Linked DNA regions of Homo sapiens. The protein of the gene in region 1 interacts with the protein of each later gene in a pairwise test. Each region holds a gene or a part of one and is shown in the gene's direction. Other genes may lie near its edges.

Region 1 (7,025 bases):
TGTTGGTGTACACGGTCACCCTCATCAACAAGGTGTGGCCAAGGACTGGGTGCCAGCTCTGGGATGCTCAGGCTCCTGACCTCCCCACCAACCTCAGCCTTGCCTTCTTATCCCCGCCCTCCAGACGCTGGCGGCGCTCCCGGACCAGGACTCCTTCTACGATGTGACGGATGCACTGGAGCAGCAGGGCATGGAAGCGCTGGTCCAGCGCCACCTGGGCACTGCGGGCACTGACGTCGACCTGCGCACGCAGCTTGTGCTCTACGAGGTGGGCCGGGCCTTACGCTCTGAGGCGGATTGGAAAGAGGGAAGAGAGAAGCGCAGTCCCCAGCGCCCCACCCCACCTGCATACACGTTAACCACTTTCTTACATCCTGGTCCGCCTCTGCTAGAACGCCCTGAAATTGGAGGATGGAGACATCGAAGAAGCCCCAGGCGCTGGTGGGCGGCGGGAACGACGAAAGCCTTCTTCTGAGGAGGGCAAGAGGAGCCGCCGTTCTCTGGAAGGCGGGGGCTGCCCCGCGCGTGCCCCGGAACCTGGGTAAGTACGAGCATCTGTAGATGGGAAAGGGTGGATCTACTAGGCATGGCCCAGTGAGCTGACAGGCCCTGACCCCAACCCCCTCAGGCCCCGCCCCACAGACAGCCCCCACCTCCTCCACTGGGCCTGCCCTACCGACATGCCCCACCTCCCGCCCCGCAGGCCCCACCCCACTGACAGGCCCCGCCTCCAGCTTCTCAGGCCCCGCCCCACTGACAGCCCCTGCTTTCAGCCCCACAGGCCCCGCCTCACCGGTAGGCCCCACCTCTTCCACCGGCCCCGCCCTGCTGACAGGCCCCGCCTCCAGCCCTGTGGGCCCTCCCTCCGGTCTCCAAGCTTCAGTGAACCTTTTTCCTACCATCTCTGTGGCACCCTCAGCTGACACCTCCAGCGAGAGGAGCATCTACAAGTAAGTAGGGAGACAGAGGCCACCCTGGAGTCCTCTCTCCCATTGTCCCTCCGCTTTGCGCCCCTCCATGGGCACTCAGCCTCCTCTGCCCAAACGCGTGCTTTCTCTCTCTCTCTTTCCAGACTTCACCAAACTGCTTCCGTTTGGTAAGTGACTGCCAGCGGGTGGGGTTCGGCTCTGACTGGATCTCCTCCTCCTGTGGTTTCCTTTGTCTCCTCCGACGTTCTGCCTGTCTTTGCCTCTTGTCATGTCTCCCGCCCACTATCTGTCACTCCCTTGTTCTGCTGCCTCTGTCTCTTCCAGCACCCTGTCCTGCTCCACGTCAGTCTCTCCCCTCCACTTCCAGTTTCCTCGTGTCATACCTTCCCCCACTTCCCACTGCGGCTGGGAAGGAACCCCAATATCACTGCCTAGCTCTGTGTGGGTATGAGCAACCATGGAGCTGACACCACAGTTACCATCTCTTCCTCTCATCCCCCCTACCCAGGGCCCCTGAGAGCCCACCCGTCCCCCAGTCCCCTCCTGGGCAGGCCAGGCTGGAGTAAGTACAGAGGCCGGCCTGCCAGGCCTGCCATGTGCTCAGGGCTTCAGCATTGCTTCCCCCAGCAGGGGTTTCACGTGCCTGATGCAACCAAAGCTGGGGGACTCAGGCCTATCCTCTCCCAGACATATGCCTCCTCGGTAACCCAAAGGCTAAGCACTGGGAACCAATTCACTGGGGTCACAGTGGTCCCTGTGCTTCAATAGCAACACCTTAGCAGCCAGAGATGGGGATGTGGACACCCAACCTGGGGCTCATTCTGCCAAGTCTTCAGCTCAGAAGCGAGCAGGGAGGGGACCTAGGGTGCTGTGTGGTGTGTGGTGTGGGGGTGGAGGGGTAACCTAAGGCTGAGGGAAAGGCAGGGACTGAGAGCTGACAGAGGCTGGAGGGGCCAGAAAAGAAACACTGGATTGCACCCATTATTTCAGCATAAACTGAGGGTCCACTGTTTACCACATCCGTTTTTTTTTTGTTTTTTTTTTTTTTGAGACAGAGTCTTGCTCGGTCTCCAAGGCTGGAGTGCAGTGGTGTGATCTCAGCACACTGCAACCTCTGCCTCCCAGGTTCAAGCAATTCTCCTGCCTCAGCCTCCCAAGTAGCTGGGATTATAGGCCTGCACCAGGATACCTGGGTAATTTTTGTATTTTTAGTAGAGACAGGGTTTCACCATGTTGGCCAGGCTGGTCTCGAACTCCTGACTTCAAGTAATCCACCCACCTCTGCCTCCCAAAGTGCTGGGATTACAAGCGTGAGCCACCGCACCTGGCCTGTTTACCAGGCCCTTTCCTGGGCATAGGCTCCCAGAAGCTACCAGACATGCCAAGGGAGGGACAGCCTGATATGCCCATTGGGACAGCTATCCCCTTCCCCTGCTCTAAGAGTCCTTGTCTAGACTCAAGACACCAGCCTGGGCAACACAGTAAGACCTCATCTCTACAAAGAAATTTTTTAAAATTTGGCTGGGTGCATCATTCACACCTGTAATCTCAGCACTTCAGGAGGCTGAGGTGGGAGGACTGCTTGAGGCCAGGAATTCAAGGCCAGCCTGAACAACACAGTGAGACCCTGTCTCCTCAAAAAAATTAAAAAATCAGCTGGACGTGGTGGCACATGTCTGTAGTCCCAGCTACTTGGGAGGCTGAGGGTCAAGCCCAGGAGAGTGAGGCTGCAGTGAGCTATGATCACACCACTGTACTCCAGCCTGGGTGACTGACAGAGTGAGACCCTGTCTCTAAAAAAAAAACCAACCAAAAAAAAACCAGGACAGTGAACATGAACGAGGTTGCAAGTTAGATGTTAAGTAGATCCTCTCCCTGTGTTTTCACCTGGGAATGCTGGGTTGGTAGTAATCCTCCCCAGATGTGGAGGACTGAAGAGGGGCTGGCCTTGGGGGGGGTGTGGTTCTGGTCTGCTCAGCGCATGGACTGTTCCCTGTGTGTCTGTGCGTGCCTGCAATTGGGGGTGGTGTCCAGGGGCTCAGCAAGGCATGTACACCTGGGCTGGGGTGTGTCAGACGCTGTCAGTGACAAGCACCTTCCCTCAGAGCCCGGTTCCTGGAGAATGTGGCGGCAGCAGAAACAGAGAAGCAGGTTGCGCTGGCCCAGGGCCGGGCAGAGACACTTGCCGGGGCCATGCCCAATGAGGCGGGTGGACACCCAGGTGAGTAGGTGGGTGAGCAGGCAGAGCCTGCCTGTTGCTTTGTTGCCCCACAGGGGGCATGGCACTGACAGCTCCTTCCCTTTCTTTAGATGCCCGGCAACTCTGGGACTCCCCAGAGACAGCCCCTGCAGCCAGAACACCCCAGAGCCCTGCCCCCTGTGTCCTGCTCCGGGCCCAGCGAAGCCTTGCACCAGAGCCCAAGGAGCCACTGATACCAGCAAGCCCCAAGGCTGAGCCCATCTGGGAGCTCCCTACCCGTGCACCCAGGCTCTCTATTGGGGACCTGGACTTTTCAGATCTAGGGGAGGATGAAGACCAGGACATGCTGAATGTAGAGTCTGTGGAGGCTGGGAAAGACATCCCAGCTCCCTCACCCCCACTGCCCCTGCTCTCGGGAGTACCCCCCCCTCCCCCACTTCCACCTCCCCCACCCATCAAAGGCCCCTTCCCACCACCTCCACCTCTACCTCTGGCTGCCCCTCTTCCCCATTCAGTGCCTGACAGCTCAGCCCTCCCCACTAAGAGGAAGACAGTAAAACTTTTCTGGCGTGAGCTGAAGCTGGCTGGGGGCCATGGAGTCTCTGCAAGCCGCTTTGGGCCCTGCGCCACCCTCTGGGCTTCACTGGACCCTGTCTCAGTGGACACGGCCCGACTGGAACACCTCTTTGAGTCTCGTGCCAAAGAGGTGCTGCCCTCCAAGGTAAATCCACTCATCTGCAAGGTAGCCCCAAGGGAGGCAGGAGGGAATCAGAGCTTAAGGATCTGACCTGTTGGAGCTAGTCACTCACTTCCCACATGGGGAAACCAAGGCAAAGAAAGGAGTAGGAAATTGTCCAAGGTCTCCTAACAAGGGATCAGCAGTGCCCCAACTAGAATCTAAATGTGGCCGGGCATGGTGGCTCACACCTGTAATCCAAGAGTTTGAGACCAGCCTGTGCAACATAGTGAGACATTATCTCTACTAAAAGTTGGTCTGGGTGTAGTGGCTCATGCCTGTAATCCCAGGACCTTGGGAGGCCGAGGCAGGTGGATCATTTGAGGTCAGGAGTTCGAGACCAGCCTGGTCAAATTAGCAAAACCCCGTCTCTACTAAAAACACAAAATTAGCCAAGCGTGGTGGCGGGCACCTGTAATCCCAGCTACTCGGGAGGCTGAGGCAGGAGAATCACTTGAACCCGGGAGGTAGAGGTTGCAGTGAGTCGAGATCGCACCATTGCACTCCAGCCTGGGGGACAAGAGCAAGACTTCGTCTCAAAAATAACTAAATAAATAAAAATAAATAAATGTTAAAAAAAAAATTAGCCGGGCATGGTGGCTCACCCCTGTAATCCCAGCACTTTGGGAGGCCAAGGCAGGCAGATTACTTGAGGCCAGGAGTTTGAGACCAGCCTGGCCAACATGGTGAAACCCCGTCTCTACTAAAAATATGAAAATGAGCTGGGCGTGGTGGCTCATGCCTGCAATACCAGCTACTTGGGAGGCTGAGGCAAAAGAATTGCTTGAACCTGGGAGGCGGAAAAAAAAATGTTAAAAAAAAAAATAGTTGGGTATGGTGGTACACGCCTGTAATCCCAGCTACTTGGGAGGCTGAGGCAGGAAAATCCCAGAAGATAAGCTGCAGTGGGCGATGATGGCACCACTGCACTCCAGCCTAGATGGTAGAGCCAGGCCCTGTCTCAAAAGAATCTAAGCTCATCCCCATGACTTACACATTCCAGGTTGCCAGTTTGTCAGTTGTGGGATCATTTGGCAATCTAGAGGAGGGCCTTGGAGTGCCCTCTGAGGTTGCTGTCCCAGCTAGTCCCTTCCTCAGTCTTTTTTTTTTTTTTTTTTTTTTTGAGACAGAGTCTTGCTCAGTCACCCAGGATGTAGTGCAATGGTGTGATCTCAGCTCACTGCAAGCTCCGCCTCCCGGGTTCACGCCATTCTCCTGCCTCAGCCTCCCGAGTAGCTGGGACTACAGGTGCCCGCCACCACGCCCAGCTAATTTTTTTTGTATTTTTAGTAGAGATGGGGTTTCACCATGTTAGCCAGGATGGTCTCGATCTCCTGACCTCGTGGTCCACCCGCCTTGGCCTCCCAAAGTGCTGGGATTACAGGCGTGAGCCACCGCGTCAGGCCCCCTTCCTCAGTCTTACACTGCCCTTCCCCCAACCATGCAGAAAGCTGGAGAGGGCCGCCGGACAATGACCACAGTGCTGGACCCCAAGCGCAGCAACGCCATCAACATCGGCCTAACCACACTGCCACCTGTGCATGTCATTAAGGCTGCTCTGCTCAACTTTGATGAGTTTGCTGTCAGCAAGGATGGCATTGAGGTGAGGTCACCCAGCTATGGGTGTTGGGGGGAGGTCTGGCCTTCTCCTTTGGTAGGTGGGCATTTCCTGTCCCTCTGGTGGTGGGCATGGGCTTGGCATTTCTGCAGGGCAGTCCCCAGACACTGGGGCCTCCCCTAGATGACTGAGGGGTCAAGACCAATGCCTCAGGCCTCAGGCCTGCATTGAGGGGGCCATGTCAGGCTCTGGCTACATCCTCAGAAGCTACTGACCATGATGCCCACGGAGGAAGAGCGGCAGAAGATTGAGGAAGCCCAGCTGGCCAACCCTGACATACCCCTGGGCCCAGCCGAGAACTTCCTGATGACTCTTGCCTCCATTGGCGGCCTCGCTGCTCGTCTACAACTCTGGGCCTTCAAGCTGGACTATGACAGCATGGAGCGGGTACCTGGGTCTTGGAGTGGGACAGTCAGTAGGGACAGGTAAGCATCATGACCATGTAGTCTGAGAGTCCCTGGTCTCCCATACCAGGAAATTGCTGAGCCACTGTTTGACCTGAAAGTGGGTATGGAACAGCTGGTACAGAATGCCACCTTCCGCTGCATCCTGGCTACCCTCCTAGCGGTGGGCAACTTCCTCAATGGCTCCCAGGTGAGTGAGAGTACATGGGGACTAGGGGGAGTCAGGGTTCTGGAGCCAACCAGGCCCAGGCTCAGAAAGGGTCCTTTCAGAGCAGCGGCTTTGAGCTGAGCTACCTGGAGAAGGTGTCAGAGGTGAAGGACACGGTGCGTCGACAGTCACTGCTACACCATCTCTGCTCCCTAGTGCTCCAGACCCGGCCTGAGTCCTCTGACCTCTATTCAGAAATCCCTGCCCTGACCCGCTGTGCCAAGGTTAGCACCTGCCAGAATCAACCAAGGCCGGACAAGGCATGAGGAGCGCTGCTTCCTGGGCCTGGCTCCTCCCCCTTCTCCCCATTTGGGCTGCTGTGCCAGGGCTTGCTCCAGCCACCTGGGTGTGAGCTATGCCCTCTGCCAGAAATGCTCTTTCCTCTATTGGCCTGGCCACACCTACTCAGTCTTTGGGTCTGTTTAACTGCCACTTCCCCCAGTAAACCTTCTGCTCCCCATTCACATCAGATGGACTTGTGTCTCTTGCACTAGTCTATGAGATTTGGATGTCTGTGTCCTTAGGGCCCAAGCTGGCCACTCTGGCCCAGAAGCAGCCTCGGGCCATGTCTTGTCTACAGGGTGTGGGGGGACAGTATGTGCACCCCCTTGCTTTCTCAGGTGGACTTTGAACAGCTGACTGAGAACCTGGGGCAGCTGGAGCGCCGGAGCCGGGCAGCCGAGGAGAGCCTGCGGAGCTTGGCCAAGCATGAGCTGGCCCCAGCCCTGCGTGCCCGCCTCACCCACTTCCTGGACCAGTGTGCCCGCCGTGTTGCCATGCTAAGGATAGTGCACCGCCGTGTCTGCAATAGGTAGGGGCATGGACCCAAGAGAGGCAGGACGGCCACCACCCTCCCTCAGACAATAAGCAGGACTTACTGTCCCTCCCTACTCTGACCTGCCTAGGTTCCATGCCTTCCTGCTCTACCTG
Region 2 (7,025 bases), on another chromosome or scaffold:
TCAGTCCCCAAAGAGGATACACAGCTGCAAGGAGCAAACACAGACACACTGAAGCTTTTGATTCCTCTCCTTTTTTTTCCTTCAAGACCCTCCAGGATGGATTCACTTTCTGCTTTGGGAAATTAAGTGGCATTCACGTGGGGGAGGGGGAGTAACTGCTTTTATTAGCTCCAGAAAATGGTCAGTGTTCAGTCTGTAACTAGGAATTAATTATATATAATCACTCAGTAAACTTTCTACAGAGTTTTTCTAATTGCTGAGCCTGATCATAGTTAGCCCGTTGGCGCCAAGTCCAGTTACTTTTATAATTAACAGCTCAAAGATTTGAGTCAGAAAGAAACAATTGGGGGCCTCTTGGATTATAAATTAGGGATGAAAACAATAGCTTTTTTTCCTTTCTTTCTTGTCATCCCTTTTATTTTCAACAAAACATTTCCCCTTTTCTTTCCCTGGGAGAACCAGTGGGGAGACTGCATCAGGTCTTAAATAGGATGAGGGGGGAGACACTTTTTAGGAAGTGGGGTGACAGTAACCTAGAAAACCCTGGAGGCAAAGGTAGGTTTTTAAAAGTCCAGCCACTTGCAACGCGTGATGTCTTTGTTTCTTTTGCCCTCTTTCCCCTTCTCTCTCCTGTGGCAGAGGCAGCAGACATTTGTCAGCCTGGGAACCCTCAATCTGGCTTTGCCTCTGGTTGACTCTGGAAAGAAAGATACATTCAAAGGGGCCTTCGCTACTGCACAGCAGAGATTTAAAAAGGGAATATGTTTCAGAACCCTTTGGTTACTCTTAAAATGCAAGATCTGAGCAAGGGTTCACCCTTGGCTTCAGGTTGCTAAGGTTATGGTCACCCTCCCCGCTACTTCCCACTCTCCTTGCAGACAAACAAACAGGCAGTGGCCATGCCAGCTCTGCAGCCAGTGTGCTGCCAGCCTGTCCCCCCCATCCCGATTACCTTACCTACCGGCCGGCGGGGGCCAGTGGCCCGTCCTTGCCCTGGCATGGCCTTGGGCACTGTGCCCTCCTTTCTCCCCTGGAGCTAAAAAGCAGTCACCTTGAAACTCCTCACTCCCAGCACCAGAGGAGTTCTGAGGCCAATGCTCAGACCTGTAACAGTAAATGACGTTATCCACTCAGGCTGTTAGTTCGGCCTCTGAAAGCGGGTTTTGCAAAACCCATTGTTAATTCTCAGGCTCTGTTGGGGGTGGTCAGAAATCTAATTTGTGAGTATCCTGTGCATTGGATAAGGGAATGTTTTCCTTGTGTTTCTCCTCTGCAGACTCGGATTGTCTTTCCTTGATGTTAACTGTCTTAGGACTGGCTGCTTCAGAGGGCTGGGTATTTGGTGGCTGTTTGCAGGCTTATAAACAGCCTTTTTATTTTACCTTTGCCGTAGACTGAGGTGCAGCCCTTTAGCTTGGCTTTTCAGATGCCTGCTGTCCTTGAAGCACTTTCATTTTACCTAGCGCCTTTTTGGTATGGATGCAAAGCTGGTTTCTAATAGACTGAGAAGAGAAGGGGGACCGGGCTTCCTCCTTGCCTTCCCCCAGGCTGCTCCCTGGGAACATTTTTGTGTTTGCACAGACACCTGTCCGTCTGCAGTTTGTGCCACGGGGCTGCACGATTCCTAACCTTCTACCCACCTAATTTGAGGGCAAGGGGGCCTCATCACAGAGCCTCATGTTGAAGGCTCAGGATCTACAAGAGAAGGCTTTTCCTTAGGAACCTGTGACTTCACAAACTCTCCCTGTCATTGCAGAGTTTTTTTTAAGCTTCTAAACGTTGGGTTGTTGGTGTCCTTTGGTTCAGCTTTTCCTAGTTCTGGTATTTAGGAAGGTGGCTTTGAAACTCGCAGGGCTGCTTAAACAAGAGCTACAGCTATTGAACAAACTGCTACCATTTTAGCTTCAACACAGGAATGAGGCAGTGTTGCCAGACGCCATTTTAAGAATCCTGCATAAATAGCTTAGCTACCGATGACTCTGCCTGTTTTAGGTGAGTGCTTATATAAAGCTGCTCTGCTAACCATTCCCCCCCACCCCAATTTCTTAAAAAATTAATTGTAGATTTAGGGAAGCATGGTTTTTAATTTTGATGTTCACTATTTTGTAATCTAGAAGAGGAAGATGTTATGCCTTGGGGATTAAATATTTCTTACAGCCTGGACCATTTTGGTATTTTGAATGAAAAGTAAAAACCAGGAAAAGTCCTTTCGAATGATGCATGATTCTTGAATTGCTGTGCGATGATCCTCATCTGTAGAACCAGAGTCTTGTGCATGTTGGTTATATATTCTAGATGGCTTAGATACTCTTCTTTAAAAGTCAAATAGTAGGGGCACTTGGGGAAAAGAAATATGTGGGCATTGTGTATTCAGGCATTTTTCTGTCAAAACTAGATGCTTTCTTTTTTCTCTCTCTTGGAAGTGTTGAGGAGATGAGATTCCTGGGAATTACGGACCATCCCTGAGTCCTCAGAATTAACAATCAGAAGGCTTAAAGCATCCTGGAGGTGCAGTAGTTCATCTGCAACTTTTAATTGCTCTTTTTTCAGTGCATGCAGGTTAAGAAGTAAGCATAGGTTTTCTTGCTCAGGCACTGGGGGAGAAATCTTTTATTCTTTTTGGGATGGGATGGGGTGGTCTTGGTTATCTTTGCAGGTACTGTTATTTCTTTGAATTGCCTCAAATGTATCAGTTTGTGAAATCTGCAGGCAAATGACTTGGGTAAATGTGAGTGTAAGAGGTGGTGGTGTATACAATGTATCTAACTAGTTGATGGTGTATTTTCCTATTGGAGTGAGAAATTGTTTGCTTTTCAGCTAATTTTACCCTTTTCTGTAGCGGGCCCCCAGTTTCCTCAACAGACCTTTAAAGGGAAAAAAGTAATGTCAGTTTGAAACAAGAGCTTGTTGTCCCATTGTTTTTGATTTAAATCATCAGGGTTGCTGGAAGCTAGCAGATATGGAAGGAAATAAGCTGTCTATGTTCTAAGACTTTAATGTGTTAATGACAGAAGTTCAGAGTATTTTCTCCAGATGCAGCTGCCTTTTCTTTTTAAGAATTATTTGACTGTTTTTTTTCCCCCAAATGACTGAACAGTTCTTAACCTAAATTGACCAACATCAGTGGGGCAATTCAGACAGGTACAGATCTTTTCTTGCGCCTACTTTTGATGTAATATTCATTTTTTTTTCCTAATAACATACTAGTTCTTAACACTAAATCAAAAAAAAACACACACACACACACAAAAAAACCGAAATCAGTGGTGTAGGAAAAAGGAAGTCCCTTTAGATGTGGCTATTCAAAATGACTAATTTTGCATTCTGGTCTTTGCTTTTGTAAATGAAGTTTTTTTTTTTTTTTTTTTTTTTTCTCCTTTTAATGCATAGACACTGCAGTTTCCTTTAGTCAAATACAAGTTAATTGTGTGTGTGAGTGTGCGTGCATGTGTGTGCACGGGTTCCTTTTGAAAGGATGGTTTGCTGATCTGTGAAAAAGATGGTTTTCTTAAATTGTTGTGCTTGAAATGCTGTGCTAAAGCTGGTGGTGCTATTGCTAAAGTTGGGTGATTATGGTGCCCACTTGTAATACTTGGAAAGATAAAACAGCTTAACTTTTTTTTCCCTCTCTCTTCTGCTCCAGCATTGATTATCTTAAAACTCAGAAGCAAATAGCCACCACATAACTAGTTTGCATTTTCCTCGTCTCTCAGCAGCATTCCTGCCTGAAGTATTCAGCTCCTCTAGGCTGTTACAAGCCAAATAATGGTTCCCTTGAATGCAGCCTTCCTCCATGATCAATACACCTTTGAATGTTTTCATCGCTGCAGAAATCCTTCAAGTGGGTTTTTTTTGGCTCAGTTCTGCATAATTGTTTCCCTCACCACTGTAGATTTCAGTTGGATCACAGATTAGCGTTTTCTCTATTACTCAAAATATGGGATCGGTTTCAAGAAGTTTAGAATTTCACATACTTCATGCTAGAGAGGGAAACAGAATTCTAGTTGCTAGAAAAGATCAAGGTTGCTATTTGTTCCTTTGAAGTTAACTGTCTACCCATCTCCGAGGGCTGCATGGGGCTTTTTGTTAAGATGTATTTCCAGTCACCCCAAGCCAGAACCCATCAACAGCATCCAGTTGGACAACCTGTGTATGTTTCAGGCAGAGTGTTTCTGAGTTGAGAATGTTTTCTCCTTAAGTTGGAATAGAAAGCATTAGTGCTGAAATAACCTTCAATAAATCACCGTTGTATTATTGCATATAAGCGATGTGTTTAAATTTAGCAGGCTGCTTTCTCCTGATGAAAACCATTTGTGACAACATGTCAGTTGTTTCTTTGGTGATTTGTGTCACAGGCTTTCTTTACAGATGCGGTGTAAATGAAATTGTTAACGGGGTTCAAAATCAGATGGCTAAATGTGTTAATATTCTCATTTAAACCCAACTACCTTTCTTCGTCTCCAAGCCCCTATAATTTAACTCTGAACTATAATCTTTTCCATTCTATCTAGCTCCCATCCTAAGTCCTCTCCTCCTAACGTGGAACTCTCCTAAAATCTTCTCCTTATACTAGGGTTCGAGACATGAGGCTGTCTTTTTGGGCCTTTTGCGTTGTCACAGTCCCAGACCACGGAACATTCTCTCTTCCCCAGGACAGGACATTCTCTCTTCCCCAGCCTCCTTCCTGTCCTGGCGTTGAGTCTTCCAAATGGAAAATTCCAGCCATATCAATTGGTGATGCACCCATTTCTTCCTGTGGAACGACAGTCTGATGGAATTGCTTCTGGAGTAAATGCCCAGCTTCTTACCACTTCAGTGTCAGCCTGAATGTTTGGAAAGTTCTAGCACCTCAAACCATTTGCATCTATGAAAGCAGAACTCTATTTTTTCCCTTTGGTTTAGCTTGTGAGTTCTCTGTGGGAGGAAGATCTGATATGGCCGGCTCTCTTTCAACCCTAGTTCCAGCAGAGAGAGAGAGAGAATGTTCTGGGTGACGGACCCTCCCAGCAAAGGGGCTTGCTTTATTTGCTTCTCTCCCCAACCCTCCACTCTTAGCCTTTGTCTTTTGAATAATCCTTCCTCATTCCACTTTTGTGGTGGGGGATAATTAGTCACAACTCAGTAGTAAGCCGTGCCTGCTGTAGAGAGGAAGCATTCAGGGGGTTGGAAGTGTGGAGACCCCAGTCTGATTGCTGGAATCAGTGCTCCTCGGTTCAGTGTTTTGAGACCAGGTCTTTAGCTTCTAGCTGGGCATATTTTTCTGCTTTGTAATTTAACCTGTATCTTTTTTTTCCCATGTTCCTGCCTCATCAGGGAATTGTAAGATTTAGGGGGAGGTGTGGGAAATCTTACTCTTTGCCCTAAAGTATTCAGCGATCAGAATTCTGGATACCCTGCAAAACACCTCCAACCTCCCTGCCTTTGAACCCTGTGTTAACAATGAGAAGCTTGTTTATTTGAAGGCTGGGTTCTCATTGGCCCACAGGGGTAGGTTGTAATTGTGTGTCTAAAAAATTGCCTTTTGCATTCCCCAATAGCATGACAACTGGAATAGTAATTTGACTTAAAAAAAAAAAGAACAACCTAGTGTTTTAAAAAACTCCTTTAGGACTCTTCACACTTTGTTGAAATCAGGTGTGGGTTTCCTCCCCCAGCCCTGGATAAGGATGAGGGAATGTCTTTAAGGTGTGTTTGTTGCTAGAACTTCCAAATAGCTGCCCCCATGGGGCAAGTTCTCAGCCTTCCTAAACATGAACATAATTTGCTCTGTTTCAGCTTGGCTGAAGAGGAAATAAAAACAGAACAGGAGGTGGTAGAGGGCATGGATATCTCTACTCGCTCCAAAGGTGAGTAAAAATCTTGTATTATCTATTCTAGAGCTAAGGAGGAAATTGGAATTTCTTTTTGTTGTTGTAGTGCAGTGAAGTGTGTGGCTCTCTGAGCCGACGTTGTAACTCTTCTTGGATTTTCAGATATAAGATTTTTTGATGGATGAACCTAATTGATGGAGAACTCTCCTCCTTTTGGTTTTCTTTCCCTGGTGCCTGTGTAGGGGTCCTGACAGTGAATTTTACCTGTGTGTCATGACTGAGGGTGGCTGGCTACCTCTCCGCAGGGTGACTTTCAGGAGCCACAGTTTAAATAAAGCATGTTCTGGAAGCCACCAGAGCCTCTAGCTGCTGCTCGTTTTCTGATTTTAACAACAGACCTCTTTGGAATCCCAGAAGTGGGATGAAGTCAGCCCGCTTCACTGGAAAGTGGTGGTCTTGGGTTAGAGATAAAAAGGAAATGTAGAGCTTGCTGGGATGCCGGGGCCAGTGTTTGCATTTAGTTCAAAATTTAGCAAATTAGGACAAACACAATTTATGCGTTTATTCACAAGCCTGGAGTAGACTCCTGAATATCTTCTAATTGAGGGATTGGTACTTTTCATTTGGTCTTTGTGAAAGAGATTTTATGAGGCTTCCCAAAATGAAGCAGTTATTCACTTTTACCTTCAGGGTGCTTTCACAAATGAGCTACTGGAGTATTTTTCGTATCTTTGGTTGATGAAAAGGCTCATCTCCAAACTTAATGGTTGTACCAAGGTGTTTTCATTCCTTCAACAAGTCACTGAGTGCTTTCTTGGAACACACAGCCTTGCACTGGGGGTTATGGGGAGGGAGGAAGAGGCTGGACAGGGTTACTGCATACTGCCGGAAGGAGATTCTCATTTGGCTGCAGAGTGTCGCACAAAGTGACTCCCTAAAGGCGTCTGAAACCAAAAGCATTTTGAGGATTGTTACAAGACAGCGTGTCGCCAGGCGTGGTGGCTCATGCCTGTAATCCCAGCACTTTGGGAGGCCAAGGCGGACCATCACGAGGTCAGGCGTTCGAGACCAGCCTGGCCAACATGGTGAAACCCCCGTCTCTACTAAAAATACAAAAATTAGTCGGGCATGGTGGCACGCGCCTGTAATCCTAGCTACTTAGGAGGTTGAGGCAGGAGAATCACTTGAACCTGGGAGGCGGAGGTTGCAGTGAGC
Region 3 (7,025 bases), on another chromosome or scaffold:
GTTCATTTGATACCCAAACACTGCTAGGTACATAGGAGTAAATATGTAATATTTAGCAGTAAATATTTCTTTGATGAATGAATCTTTTCCTTTGTTCATTACACAGATCCCTTCTAAGCTCCTCCCTAGACTTTTCCTCCTAAACTGTGGCTAGTTAAGCCTCATGTTGTTCTATCCCAATGACTGTTTACTCCATTTGCATGTGGCCCTTCCCCTTAACTGGAGCTCTAAGCAATGCTGTAGTTCAGTCTCAGCAGAATCCTCTCTAACTCTTGGTAGTTAAGCCATACCACTGGCTCATGATCATCCTTGTGGTCCCCAAAATGCTAATGCTCTGCAGCTTCCTTTTTATTTTTTATGTCTCCCCTAATGTCTTACTGAAAGTTACGTGTTTACTGGCTTCACACATTTTGTCTCTTTTCATTAAGACTAATATGTTCTGCAATATTAGTTTCTCTTCTCATTAGTATAAGAAGTTTCTCTTCTGATTAGTACTTTATGTAACTGTAACAAGATTCCTGTGTTAAGATTATTTTGTAGCCTACCATGATATTTAAAACTCTCTATTAATATTGCTAGTATGGGAATGAGTAGATATTTTAATTTTGGGGTTAAGGATAAATAATGTGGAATCATTTAGTCAGTCATAGAAGCAAAAATTTTGCTCCCTTTGTTTTTATTTTATTAACTCAACCAATAAAAACCCATTTTGTAAAAGCAAATGTCTCAAATTTTTGTAAACATCCTAACGACCTCAAATGTTTATACTTATATTTGACAAATTTGTATGTGTTTTTCTCCAGGAATGAGTTGGAACATTTGCAGTATAAGGTATTGCAGGAAAGAGAGAATTATCAACAGTCTTCTCAATCAAGCAAAGCAAAATCAGCAGTACCTTCCTTTGGTATAAATGATAAATTTACACTAAATAAAGATGATGCCAGTTACAGCCTTATCTTAGAGGTACAGACTGCAATAGATAATGTCTTAATACAGGTAAGCAAAATGTCTAATTTCTTAGTTTTATGACTGGATCTATTTTGCAAACCAGTCATATGTACTAATTATTATTGAACATTTTTAGTTTTAGACAGTAATTTTATTTTATTTTTATTTTTATTTTTATTTTTTTGAGACAGAGTTTTACTCTGTCACCTAGACTGGAGTGCAGTGGTGCGATCTCAGCTCACTGTAACCTCCGACTCCCAGGTTCAAGTGATTCTCCTGCCTCAGCCTCCCGAGTAGCTGGGACTACAGGTATGTGCCACCACACCTGGCTAATTTTGTATTTTTAGTAGAGACGGGGTTTCACCATGTTGGCCAGGCTGGTCTTGAACTCCTGACCTCTGGTGATCCACCCGCCTCGGCCTCACAAAGTGCTGGGATTGCAAGCGTGAACCACCCCACCCAGTCATAGACAGTAATTTTAAATGTTTATGGCCTTTTATTCTTCCTTTAGATAATTGGTTTGCTCACAGATTATTTGAATTATATTTTTACTTTTTATTTATGTACTTAACAAACAAAAGATGGGCTTCAGTTTTAAGAAGAGTTAGAAAAGACAGTAAGGTTTTTCTTCTTTGGCTACCCTCTGGGAGAATCTTAACAGAGATGTGACTTAGAAAACTACCATATTTAATGCCCTTGCTAGAACATTTTTTTTTAAAGCCCCAAACATTAAAGTACAGCTTGCTCATTAACCCAACAGTTTCTGGTAGGTCAACAGGCAAAGTAGAGAATACTAAAGGGTGAAATTTAGGGATAATAATATATGACTCCATTCATCAATGTATATATTTACTGACTTATTTAAATTAGAAGGTATTCAGGAAGTAGAAAAGAATAATAGGATGAATAGAAAACAAACAAAAGGTAGTAAACCAATCACAAAATGAGAACATAACAAATTGGAGGAAGAAAAGGTTTAAAAAGATGTAATGGAGAGATCAGATTATTAAAAAAAAAACCTAAAGGCAGAAAACTCTCTTAAGTAATGCTAGCTCACGGGCTGTTGCATTGAACAACTCTAGGAATGCCATTCACATAGGACAGTGCAACAGCTTTGTCCTACAAACTGCCTCTCCAGAGGAGACCAAAAATTATCTTCTTTCTGTGTTACAGGTAAAATTAAAACTGATAAAAATGAACTGATACAATCAGAATGGCCATGTGATTATTTATAGCTCATGGTAACATTTTTAGCACTTTATAAAAATAAGTGGGATGATTGGACTTTTAAGGGGGTGGTGAGAGATGTTATTCTGTGATTTTTATAATCCAAGTTAGAAAAAAGCAGGTGATTGTAAAATAACATTTATTCTTTATTATATTTATTTTCTGGAAGTATATACTATCAAGTATAAGTTAAGAGAATTCATACTCTCAAATTTAAAGATGAATATAAACTAGAACTAAGGAGAACTCTTAGAGAAAACATAATTTATGAACATTTTTAGGTTTTCCATCTCAACCTTCTTTTTTTTTAATATTGACTATAGAGTGATGTTCCAATAGATTTACTTGATGTGGATAAAAATTCTGCTGTTGTTAGCTTTAGCAGCTGTGATTCTGAGGTGAGTAAAAATATAAAAGAATTCTTCACATGCTTTCATTTCTATTATGCCATTTTGATTAAAGTCTATAGATGCTGCTAGGTTTTGATGTTTCTTTTTCAATTATTTCTTATGTAACCTTTCCTTCAAAATCTGTGTCGGTTCTCTTTCCCTGTCCTCAGTCGAGAAACCTGATGTCCTAGATTCCTTCTTTTCTGTGATCTGTTACAGGTTGATATCCCTTATGTGAAATGCTTGGGACCAAGAAGTATTTTGGATTTTGGATTTTTTTCAGGTTTTGGAATATTTGTTTTGTATTTACTGGTTCAGCACCCCAAATTTGAAAATCTGAAATCTGAAATGCTCCAATGAGCGTTTCCTTAAAGTATTATCTTGGCACTCAAAAAGTTTAGAGTTTTGGAACATTTTAGATACTCAGTTTGGGAATGTTCAGCCTATATATCCAATTAGTCACTAGTTTCTGTCAGTTCTACCTCCATGGCTTTCATACTTCCACTTGGCTTCATTCCTACCCCTGTTAACTTAGTCCAGGCCCTTATCATGTCTTGCTTGAACTACTTTATAAGTTTCTCTGCCTCTAGTCTTGCCTCTGACTTCTAGGATATGCTGTATGTACACTACCACCAGAGACGTCTTCCTTCCTAAAACACGAACATCACTGTATCTTTCTTTTCTCAAAACCTTTTCAATATTCCTGATTTCCTGCTAGATATAAATATAGATTCCTTATTGTGGCATAGAAAACTTTCCATGATTCAGCTCTTGATTACATCTCTAACTTCTCTCTCACCGGCTGCTACCACCCCTCCCATGCACATTATTTCTGCCAAACTGAAGTTCTTAAAATTCCTGAAAATGCTATATAGTTTCACACATCCCTGCATTGGAACATGATCTGTTGCTTCCCCCGCTCTTCCTGCCCTGCCCCACTTTTTCTAGGCTTGTTGAATGCATACTAAACTTCATTCAACAGACTTTTATTGAGCACTTAACGTGCACAGTACCTGAGATGATCACGTCAGTGCTTTTGGACATGCTTACTGTATCACTTCTTTCTGCTTAGTACTAGCCGATAAGCAGTCTCAGAGCTAGGTGTGACTCCTGAAGAGAAGTCAAGGTATAGATAAGGTTTGGATTAATTGCATTGTAGAAGGCAAGCCAGAGCAGGAGGAGATGGTAACTGGAGTTGGTGGTTAGTTATATTAATATATATTTTATTTTATTTATATGCATTGGCACTGTTGCAGAATATATTTTATTTATTTGGTTTTTGTTATTTATTTACTTTTTTAAGACATGGTCTCGCTCTGTTGCCCAGGCTGGAGTGCAGTGGCGTGATCATGGCTCGCTGCAGCCTCGACCTCCTTGGCTCAAGCAGATCCTCCCACCTCAGCCTTCCAAGTAGCTGGGACTACAGGCACAAGCCACCATGCCTGGCTGATTTTTAAATTTTTTGTAGAGACAGGGTCTTCCTATGTTGCCCAGGCTGGTCTCAAACTCCTGGGCCTAAGTGATCCTCCCACCTCAGCCTCCCAAAGTGCTGGGATTATAAGCATGAGCCACCACGTCTGGCCTTATATATATATTTTTAAAAAGGAGGAATAAAAGAGTAGATAAAGTAAAATATTGATAGATAAAAGAATAATTTTCTTTTTCTTTTTTTTTTTTTTTTTTTGAGATGGAGTCTCACTCCTCACCCAGGCTGGAGTGCAGTGGCACAATCTCAGCTCACTGCAACCTCCGCCTCCCAGGTTCAAGCAATTCTCCTGTCTCAAGACTCCCAAGTAGCTGGGACTACACGCACACGCCACCACACCCGGCTAATTTTTGTATTTTTAGTAGAGATGGGTTTTTGCCATGTTGGTCAGGCTAGTCTTGAACTCCTGACCTCAGGTGATCCACTGGCCTTGGCCTCCCAAAGTGCTGGGATTACAGGTGTGAGCCACTGTGCCCAGCCTGTTTTTCAATATAACTTCATAGTAAAAATTTTATTTTTAATAAGCGATTTTATAACAGTTGTATTATATTATCAATATGTGGTTTGTCGTTCCTGTTTGAGAACAAAACACAAAAGATATGGCCTACATTTTTATGATTATTTAGAAAATCAGTAAACTTAAAACAAACTTAAAATCTTTGATTCTTAAGTTACTATGAAAGATTAATCTGTTTTAATTACATCACTGAAGGATTCTTTGAAATGACTATTTGATACTAATTTAAAATATATTTTCTAGGACAATGGCTTTAAAAAAACGTATGGAGGTTTCAAGTATACACAAAAGTAGAAAGACTAGTATAATAACTTGCATGTACCCATCACTAATTTTCAACATATGGTTAGTCTTTTTTTTTTTTAAAAGATGGGGGTCTTACTGTGTCACCCAGGCTGGAGTGCAGTGGCGTGATCATAGCTTATTGCAGCCTGAAACTTCTGGGCTTAAGCTTATCTTCTTGTCTCAGTCTCCTGAGTACGTAGGACCATAGGCATATGCCATGATGCCCAGCTAATTTTTTTTATTTTTTATTTTTTGTAGAAATGGGGCCTCACTTTGTTGCCCAGGCTGGTCTTGAACTCCTAGCTTCAAGCTGTCCTTCCACCTTCCAGCCTCCCAAAGTGCTGGGATTACAGGTGTGAGCCACCATGCCCAGCCCAGTCATTTTTTCATGCTCTTCACCCTCTCCTTCCCACTCCCAAACCTCATCCCAAACATGTTATCTGTATCATTTATTGATAAACACTGTAGTATATAACGTTTGCTTTTAATCATACAAGAACACATTTACGGCTTGGCACCGTGGCTCATACGTGTAATCCCAGCACTTTGGGAGCCCAAGGCAGGTGGATCACTTGAGGCCAGGAATTCAAGACCAGCCTGGCCAACATGGTAAAACACCCTCTTTACTAAAAATACATAACAAGTAGCTGGGTGTGGTGGCATGCACCTGTAGTCCCAGCTATTTGGGAGGCTGAGGTATGAGAGTCAGTTGAGCCCAGGAGGCAGAGGTTACATTGAGCTGAGATCACACCACTGCACTCTAGCCTGGGCAACACAGCAAGACTCTGTCTCAAAAAAAAAAAAAAAGAATATATTTACTTTTAAATTGATCAGTCCTCTCTGTTGAGTTTAAATGATTTGAAATTGAAATGTTTGAGTTTTATATTTTATATTACCATCCTTTTTATTTCTTTGATTATTTAATAAAAATAGAGAAATAGCAGTCTCAAAAATTACATATAAATTATCTTATGTTGCTGTGTCTCTTTTTGTAATCCATGAACCTAGCTACATTTCTCTATTTCTAGTAGTTTAATATTCAATTTCAAGAAGTTATAATATTTGAAAAAACTCCTCTAGGTTAGTTCAACAAACATGTATTAAGCACTTACAGTATGCCAGGCACTGTGCCATTTGCTGGGAATACAGAGAAGAGATATTTCTCTTTCCTGTATAAGTATTTGTGAAAAATCTAAGAGATTCAATATTAAACTCTGGTGTATGTGCCTTTACAGTATAAACATTTTGTATTAGTCCATTTTCACACTGCTGATAAAGACATATCCAAGATGGGACAATTTACAAAAGAAAGAGGTTTATTGGACTCACAGTTCCACCTGGCTGGGGAGGCCTCACAATCATGGCGGAAGGTGAAAGGCACATCTCACATGGCGGCAGACAAGAGAAAATGAGAGCCAAGAGAAAGGGGTTTCCCCTTATAAAACCATCAGATCTTATTCACTACCATGAGAGCAGTATGGGAGAAAATGGCCCCATGATTCAATTATCTCCCACTGAGTCCCTCCCACAACACATGGGAATTATGGCAGTACAATTCAAGATGAGATTTGAATGGGGACAGAGCCAAACCATATCACATTTGGTGTTTGCATTGTCAGATTTTTAGAAGAATTCTTAATGTTTAAAAATGTTATTGTAAAAACTCAAGATGGAAAGAGCATGAGCTTTCGATAGGAATTTGAATTCCAGTTTCATCACTTAATGGCTTTTATTTAACTCCTCATAACCTCAGTTTCTTCATCTGTTAAAATTTAATTAGTAAAACTTAGTGCATAGAGTTTTTGTAAGTGTAAGTTAGAACATGTTTGAAAAGCGCTGAGCACCAATGACAGGTGCTTAAGCAAATGGTAACCATTATTATTATTGATGTCTTTTTTTTGTTGCTAAAAACATGGATTCATTCTTTTCCTCCACTTTGTATTCTTCCCAGTCAAACGACAACTTCCTTCTTGCCACTTATCGGTGCCAGGCAGATACTACAAGGCTGGAACTCAAGGTAAAAATATTAGAAATTACCTTTACTTGAATGTTTGAATTTCCTTTTTCCTGCTGGTATGTCTTACAACATATGATATTATTTGTTTGCATTTAATTTCTCCCTGAAATGAATTGTTTGGAGTAATGAATTTTGAATGACCAGTTAGGATGTAAT
Region 4 (7,025 bases), on another chromosome or scaffold:
TCTTTTAGACCTGGGCTGGTAAGAAGTGCTGAAGATGTTTTTTAGAGATTTGTGGTATGACAAATTCCACTGGGGTTTCTGACCTTCTCAGTCATGCTTGTCTTGGGGTCACCACTCCTTGGCCCTCTCCTATGGCACCTGTCCCTCATTCTGCTCAAGCCCCTATGCCTTCCCAACAACTTGCCTTTAGCTCTGGGCAGATGTCTTTGCTTGCACTTGTCACAGAGAACATGAAGGCTCTCTGCTGTTTTGTGCCCATGCACATGCCTCTTCTCTGTCTTTACCTCCTGTCCTCCAGGCTTGGAGGGAGAGCACCTAGCTCCCATCATTTTCTTGTACACTCTCCCTGTCCCTCTGGATGCTACGCCAGCATTTTCCCTCCCCTACTCCTTCACCTCCACATTTTGTCTTTCTTTACTGTTCCTTTCCTGCAGAAATACATGCCCAAGTTGTTCCCATCTTAAACACAGACAAATGAAAAACAAAAGGATTTAAGTTTTGTCTATACCACATTTTCCTTTAGTTTATCCCTATGTTTTTTCCTTGATAAACTACTACATACCTTCAAAGAATAGTCTGCAGTCCTTGTTTTCTTTTGTTAACTTTCCATTTCTTCTTTGGGCCCCTGGAATCAGGCTTCTACTCTCACTATTAAAGTCACTGGTTCCCTGGTTACCAAATGTAAGGGTCTCTCTAGGCCTCATTTTACTTGACCTTTCTAAAATATTTAATGCTGGCCACTTTCATCTTTATGAAAGCTTTAGGTTTCTGGGATGCCACTCCTGATTTTCCTACCTTTGGTCCATTTCTTCTCCTTTGCTGACCTTCTTCCTCTGGCCACCCAGCTCTTAAATGCTGATCCTCCCTGAGTCTCCCTTTCGATAGTCTCATTTATCTGCATGGTTTTAATGACCATATCTGCACAGGTGATTCGGAAACCTGAATCTTCCACCCAGATCACTCTCTTGAGCTCTAAACCCACGTAACATAATCCTTTTAACAATTCTACAAAATAGCACTGTTTCCCACATTTATAGGTGAGGAAATTGAGGCTAAGAAAGGTAACCTGTTTGAAGTCAGTGGAAAAGCCAGGATTTTAACGTCTACCTAAAATCAGGCCTTTAACTCTATTAATCAAACATCTCCACCTGGTTATCTGACAGATATATCCTACACTGAATGCCATCTCATAATCCTGTTCTCCTTCCTTGCCTCAAAAAAAATTAGAAAATGTGAAAGACTATATTCTCAATCTCAGTGAATGACATTCCTTCTTTTCAGTTATACAAGTTGGAATGTAAAGGGAATTGACATAGACTTTTCTCTGTCTCCTACCCTGCAGGTCCATCTAGCCCGAGGTAGTATCAGTTCTTGTGCATCTACCTTTTTGACGTGACTTGTAATCATACCCTCCTCTTTATTCTCACTGCTACTGACATAGTTAAGAACTTTATCTTGACTGTTATTGCCATTATAGTGACAGTCTAACTCACTGCTTCTCACATTATCTGAGCTGAAGAACCAGGGTTTATTGTTTCTGTTTTTTTAATTTTTAATCTGTTGCAGAAATTTTGTAGCATATAAAAAAATTAATTAGAAAAATGAAATGAAAAAAGACATACAAAAATAGCTCAGTTTTATACATTATTAAATTCAATACACATAAAAATTACTCTGTCAAATTGTCATAAAAGTTTTTGGGTACTAATAGTCTATGTATATCCTGTCCCAGATGGGTCACACTTTTGCACATTGGCACTGGTCCACAAACAACATTGAGGAATGCTAGTTCACAGTATCTGATGAAAAGAAATGTCTTCAGTTCTCTTAGATTATAACCACATGGGCCTATGTTATTTAAAACTGAAACATTTCAGTAGAAGGTTCTTTGCTTTGACTTATAGATAGCTTCTATATGTGGATTTAAGAGGTTTTAGAAAATTCCCTGTTTCTTTAGGATCCCTTCTTTCAGTAGGAATAAATCCCATCGAGCAAGGGGTAATCATGTGTTATGTTACAATTTAATGCCAAAATCAAAGTGTACTGACTTAAGAATCAAATCAACATTTTCTTAAATAGGCTTGAAGTACCTTCATGTATCTTCATGGGATACCTGTAATAAAAGTGATTTTCCCTGATTTGATATATTTAACTTGATATGATTGTGCATACAAAAAAAAAACTGTGCTTCTATATTGCACAGTGAAATATAGCAAATGGGTTGATGTGATCTCCATTTCTGAAAGATTAAAATTCTACGTTGGTATTATTCTGACTGGGAGTGAAATAATAAAAGTAAGTTATTTGGATTTAGGCAGGCATCTGACTAAGCCCTTGTCAGAAGATTTGAAATTAATGACATGCAGACAGGAGATACCAAATTGTCAAACTGTAGAATATCTCTTGGCTTTAAATGGCATGGCAGAAGAATAAAAAAACACAGCAACAAAGTTCTAAGGGGACAGAATTGAGAGATTGGAATGCTCTAAATATTAAGCTGAGATTGTACCTGGAGTTAGTTCAGAAATATAGTAAATAAAACCATGCTGTACAGAACCCATTGTTGTCTGCAGTAGGCCTGACACAGAACAAAACACATGGGGCAAATGCCTGAGAGCATAATCTTCCCATGTGTGGTAAAAAAGTCAAAAAAGGCCTTTTTAGACATTTTTAAATTAAAAAAAAAAATTAAGCTAGTCTACAGCAGTGTGCCAGGAACCAAAAAACTACTACAGAAACTTTCTAATCATTAAGAGTTTTAAAAGCAATTTTAAAAAATTGAATACAGCAATATTTGCTCTGTTAATGAAGTGTATGACCCAAAACACTATTAACTATCAAAACAGAACATACTTTTTTTTTTTAACAAGAAATTGGGGCACTATAGGAAGTTTAGGAGATTATATTCCCAAAAGCAGTATGTTAGAACCCTTCTTCTTTCATAGTAGATGGGTAGATGGCAGAATGCTAAACTCATACCTAGAAAATGATTAGAAGTTTTATTCAAATAAAAATTTTAAAGTAGCATAACTTGTATACAGTTCAGGTTGGAGAGGAGTCAGGAAAAGGTAACCTCATTGTGATCCATATGCTCCCCAAAGCAGAAATGGGTGAAGTGAAATGAAAAGAAAGTTTATTTTTTAAAGGTAATAAAGACAAAGGAAAAACAAAAAAACATAACTTTTCTTAATTTGTGTTGTAGCAAGTTAAGCTGAGGTACGGAATACCAGGTGGATGGGCATGGGAAAGGGAGATGATGACACTGCAAGCAGAGGGAAGAGAAAAGAAAAAGAGACATGTGGAGGATAGCGTGGAATAGCTGCCTGGCCTGTGCTCAAAATAGTAAGCAGTTTGGGATGGCCAGAGCATACTCAGGAATGGTATTTAGTGCTGGCTGGGATCTGACCATGGAAGATGCTTATACCAGTGCCTCTCAAACTTAAGTGCACGTGAGCACCCGAGGATTTGTTAAAATTCGTATTCTAGGTGGAGACTTCAGAGGCTGCGTTTCTAACAAGCTGCAATGTGATGCAAATGCTGCAGGGTCACAGGCCACACTGAACAGCAAAACTGCAAATTTTATCCTAATATTTATCAATAATATGTTTTATGGATGAAGAGTTTCCACCATTACAGTGTTTGTTGAATAGCACAAAATACATAGCATTTATCTTAAGCTAGATATTCAGTAGTTTTTTGTAAGCTTTGCTCTCCTGATGGTGAAATAATACTCTTAGCAACTTCATTGCCAGGTATGAAATAAATAATTCAGGGCTCTCATCTTTTATTGAATTAGTTTGAGTAGAGGGATGCAATATAATGAAAAGAGCATAAACTTTTGAATCAAATTTTTAGACCTGTGCTTTAATATCAGTTTTATGACTAAATAGCTGTGTGACTTTATGAAGACGAATTAATCTATTTCTCTTTTTCTATTTTCTCATGTCTAAAATAGAATACTTGCCATTTTATAGGATTGTTGTAAGGGTTAGAAATGATAGGTATAAAGTATCTTCCCTTGTAGGGAAGATTAGTGGAGGTTTCAATTTGATAACTTTTGAGATCCCTTAAAAACTAAAATTGTATGAATTTTAAATAAAAAACATTGAACGATCTAATCCTAGGAAGTACTGATATATGGGGGATTATCGACCCTTCTACTTCTAGAGTCTTTTTTCTCAGTGATTTTGGCAAATCGGAAGGTGTGGTTTGTTGTAGTTTGTAAAAGCTCCCACTGAGATCCACTAACACTCATGGTGTGCAGTATGGTTGTTTCCCATGGAAATATGTTGTACTTCTGAAAGCCATGGAAGCATGAAAAACAGATTGAATTATAATTTTATCTGACTTTTATTGTCTTTTGATCTTTTTAAAAATCATTTCTTGCTTATGGAAATTTCCCATATAATTTGCTGCTTCCCATTTGCTGTGGGACAGAAACATTCCTCTTTCAGGGGAAAACAATAACCCATCCTGTTGCTTAGCCATACTCAATCTTAGAAATGGGCATACCAGCTTGTGGTGCTCCCTAGAGAGAATGAGACTCAGGGATGAGACCCACAAATACCTTGGAAGCAGATTTGAGGCCTGTTGGACAGAAATTCTGGGATTGCAGTGCCCAAACCCTAGAAGGGGAACCGTGGACTGTAGGTGGGCACATCCCTTTGATCCTACTGACTCCTCGCCTGGTGGGGACAGACATAGTCAGAGGAATGCCAAAACAGTGCCCTCTCAAGCCCAGGGCAGGGTCCCAGGTTGTGGGGCAGGAGTATATTAAGGAAATTAGTATATTATCTCAGCTAACTTTTTAAAAATATAATAGCCTGTTTATTTAGCTTTCTTGTTTCATAACTGTGGTATACTTTTATTTATGTTTTAGTTTTTAATGGATGACTCAATGGTATAAACATCTTATTTAATTCAGTAGCTCTGAGATGGAAATAAGTCTTAGTGACTTAAAAAAATTCTTAGTTTAAATGTGGTCTAGGTAGAAGACATGTTATTAATATTATGAGCTTTTTTTTTTCTAACTCTGTGCCTTGTTCTTATGTTTTGGTTTTTTAGATCGGCTTCAGCTCCCCAGGAATATGATTGAAAACAGCATGTTTGAGGAAGAACCAGATGTGGTGGATTTAGCCAAAGAGCCTTGTTTACATCCTCTAGAGCCTGATGAGGTGGAATATGAGCCCCGGGGTTCCCGACTGCTGGTGCGGGGTCTTGGTGAGCATGAGATGGAGGAGGATGAAGAGGATTATGAGTCATCAGCAAAGCTGCTGGGCATGTCCTTCATGAATAGAAGCTCAGGCCTTCGGAACAGTGCAACTGGTTACAGGCAGAGCCCAGATGGGGCTTGTTCAGTACCCTCTGCAAGGACCATGGTGGTCTGTGCTTTTGTCATCGTGGTTGCTGTTTCTGTAATCATGGTGATTTACTTACTGCCCAGATGTACCTTTACCAAAGAAGGCTGCCATAAAAAAAACCAGTCAATTGGACTAATTCAGCCATTTGCAACAAATGGGAAATTGTTTCCATGGGCACAGATCAGGCTTCCCACTGCCGTTGTGCCACTACGCTATGAACTCAGCCTACACCCGAACCTAACCTCGATGACATTCAGGGGTTCTGTGACAATTTCAGTTCAGGCTCTTCAGGTCACATGGAATATCATTCTTCATAGCACAGGTCATAATATTTCAAGAGTGACCTTTATGTCAGCAGTTTCAAGCCAAGAAAAACAAGCTGAGATCCTGGAATATGCATATCATGGACAGATCGCCATTGTTGCCCCCGAAGCCCTTCTAGCAGGGCACAATTATACGTTGAAGATAGAGTACTCGGCAAATATATCTAGTTCTTATTATGGGTTTTATGGCTTCTCCTACACAGATGAAAGTAATGAGAAAAAGTAGGTAGCCCTCTTAAATGATTCTGGTTTTACGCTCTGATAACTTCTGCAATATAGATCCCTTTGTCCACACCAGAGACACGAATTGTGATTTTTTTTTTTAATTTAGGAAGTTATATACAAAATAGTAGAATGGTGATTTAGAACAATATATTATCTCTCTTAGTCAACGCCTTGAGCATATATCATGGTGGGGTGGAGATAGGGGTGTGCTGGTGGAAAAGGATGGATAAAGATTATATCCAAAACTTGTTATCTTGAGTTTTTCACATTTTTAAGGTGAATCTAGTTTTCTGTCACCTCATGAAGTCTGTTGGGAAGCAGAGTAAAGAGGAGTTATTCTTTAAGACCTATTTTCCTAATGTGCAGAACTTTTAGGAGGTACTTAGTGAAATACAGAAAGAGGGCATGAAGAAGTGTGAAGTGTGGTGTGCTTACATATATCATTTTTAATATCCTTAATCTTTACTGGTTTATTATTTTTTAAAATGCCAGTCTATTTTGGATTTCTGGTGTAAATTTTTTTTAAGGTCTAGGAGAGACTTAATTTGGTTCAGAAAAAAAGGTGAGACAAAATATAAAATTATTCAGCTCCCTATTTGGACTATATATTTAGTACTTTAATCTTAGCATTCATAGCATGTAGTTTGAAATTCTGGGAAGATGGAGTTCACACAGTATGGAGGTTATTCTTAAGTAGCAGTGATATCAGTTGTCTTGTGCACAAAATCCTCACGACATCTGCTTTATGCAATTGGAACATTCTCTCATATTACTCTGTAAAACAATATGTGAATTACTGATGCTGACCATTTGGCTAATGTATGTTGACATATTAAGAGAAATAGTTAGAAATGAGTATTCTACATCTAAAGGAAACTTTTTGATCCTTCTTAAATGGAGAAAGAGACCAAGCAAGATCCATAATTCTATTCAGATAAATAATTTTTATTTTATTTTCCCTCTATGTAATACTTTTAAAATAAATGGCATACTGGCCCTGCATTTCAATTCTTGCGTGAGATCTGGGATTGAACACAAATGTATAATTGCAATGGGAACTTGAAAGTTCTTGCCTTTAGTTCTCCTTCTATAATGCCTATTATCCCCAGGAAATGTA

The links.
Region 2: the proteins of FHOD1 (region 1) and ZMYND8 interact in a two-hybrid assay, tested with the Homo sapiens proteins (one study listed by BioGRID).
Region 3: the proteins of FHOD1 (region 1) and BBS7 interact in a two-hybrid assay, tested with the Homo sapiens proteins (one study listed by BioGRID and IntAct).
Region 4: the proteins of FHOD1 (region 1) and LNPEP interact in a two-hybrid assay, tested with the Homo sapiens proteins (one study listed by BioGRID).

What each region holds. Positions count from the first base shown.
Region 1 is NC_000016.10:67,230,482-67,237,506, reverse strand, and holds part of FHOD1 (FH1/FH2 domain-containing protein 1), read left to right. Parts: coding exon 1-32; intron 33-124; coding exon 125-268; intron 269-392; coding exon 393-541; intron 542-773; coding exon 774-950; intron 951-1,072; coding exon of another isoform or gene 1,073-1,096; intron 1,097-1,437; coding exon of another isoform or gene 1,438-1,491; intron 1,492-3,034; coding exon 3,035-3,150; intron 3,151-3,239; coding exon 3,240-3,850; intron 3,851-5,312; coding exon 5,313-5,468; intron 5,469-5,668; coding exon of another isoform or gene 5,669-5,687; coding exon 5,688-5,870; exon of another isoform or gene 5,871-5,871; intron 5,872-5,957; coding exon 5,958-6,077; intron 6,078-6,157; coding exon 6,158-6,319; intron 6,320-6,715; coding exon 6,716-6,906; intron 6,907-7,000; coding exon 7,001-7,025. UniProt on the Homo sapiens protein: Required for the assembly of F-actin structures, such as stress fibers. Depends on the Rho-ROCK cascade for its activity. Contributes to the coordination of microtubules with actin fibers and plays a role in cell elongation.
Region 2 is NC_000020.11:47,346,677-47,353,701, reverse strand, and holds part of ZMYND8 (MYND-type zinc finger-containing chromatin reader ZMYND8), read left to right. Parts: exon of another isoform or gene 1-697; intron 698-961; exon of another isoform or gene 962-1,141; intron 1,142-1,952; exon of another isoform or gene 1,953-1,992; intron 1,993-2,423; exon of another isoform or gene 2,424-2,508; intron 2,509-3,713; exon of another isoform or gene 3,714-3,812; coding exon of another isoform or gene 3,813-3,841; intron 3,842-5,775; coding exon 5,776-5,846; intron 5,847-7,025. UniProt on the Homo sapiens protein: Chromatin reader that recognizes dual histone modifications such as histone H3.1 dimethylated at 'Lys-36' and histone H4 acetylated at 'Lys-16' (H3.1K36me2-H4K16ac) and histone H3 methylated at 'Lys-4' and histone H4 acetylated at 'Lys-14' (H3K4me1-H3K14ac).
Region 3 is NC_000004.12:121,839,475-121,846,499, reverse strand, and holds part of BBS7 (BBSome complex member BBS7), read left to right. Parts: intron 1-803; coding exon 804-996; intron 997-2,498; coding exon 2,499-2,573; intron 2,574-6,803; coding exon 6,804-6,869; intron 6,870-7,025.
Region 4 is NC_000005.10:96,974,074-96,981,098, forward strand, and holds part of LNPEP (leucyl-cystinyl aminopeptidase), read left to right. Parts: intron 1-5,064; coding exon 5,065-5,905; intron 5,906-7,025. UniProt on the Homo sapiens protein: Release of an N-terminal amino acid, cleaves before cysteine, leucine as well as other amino acids. Degrades peptide hormones such as oxytocin, vasopressin and angiotensin III, and plays a role in maintaining homeostasis during pregnancy.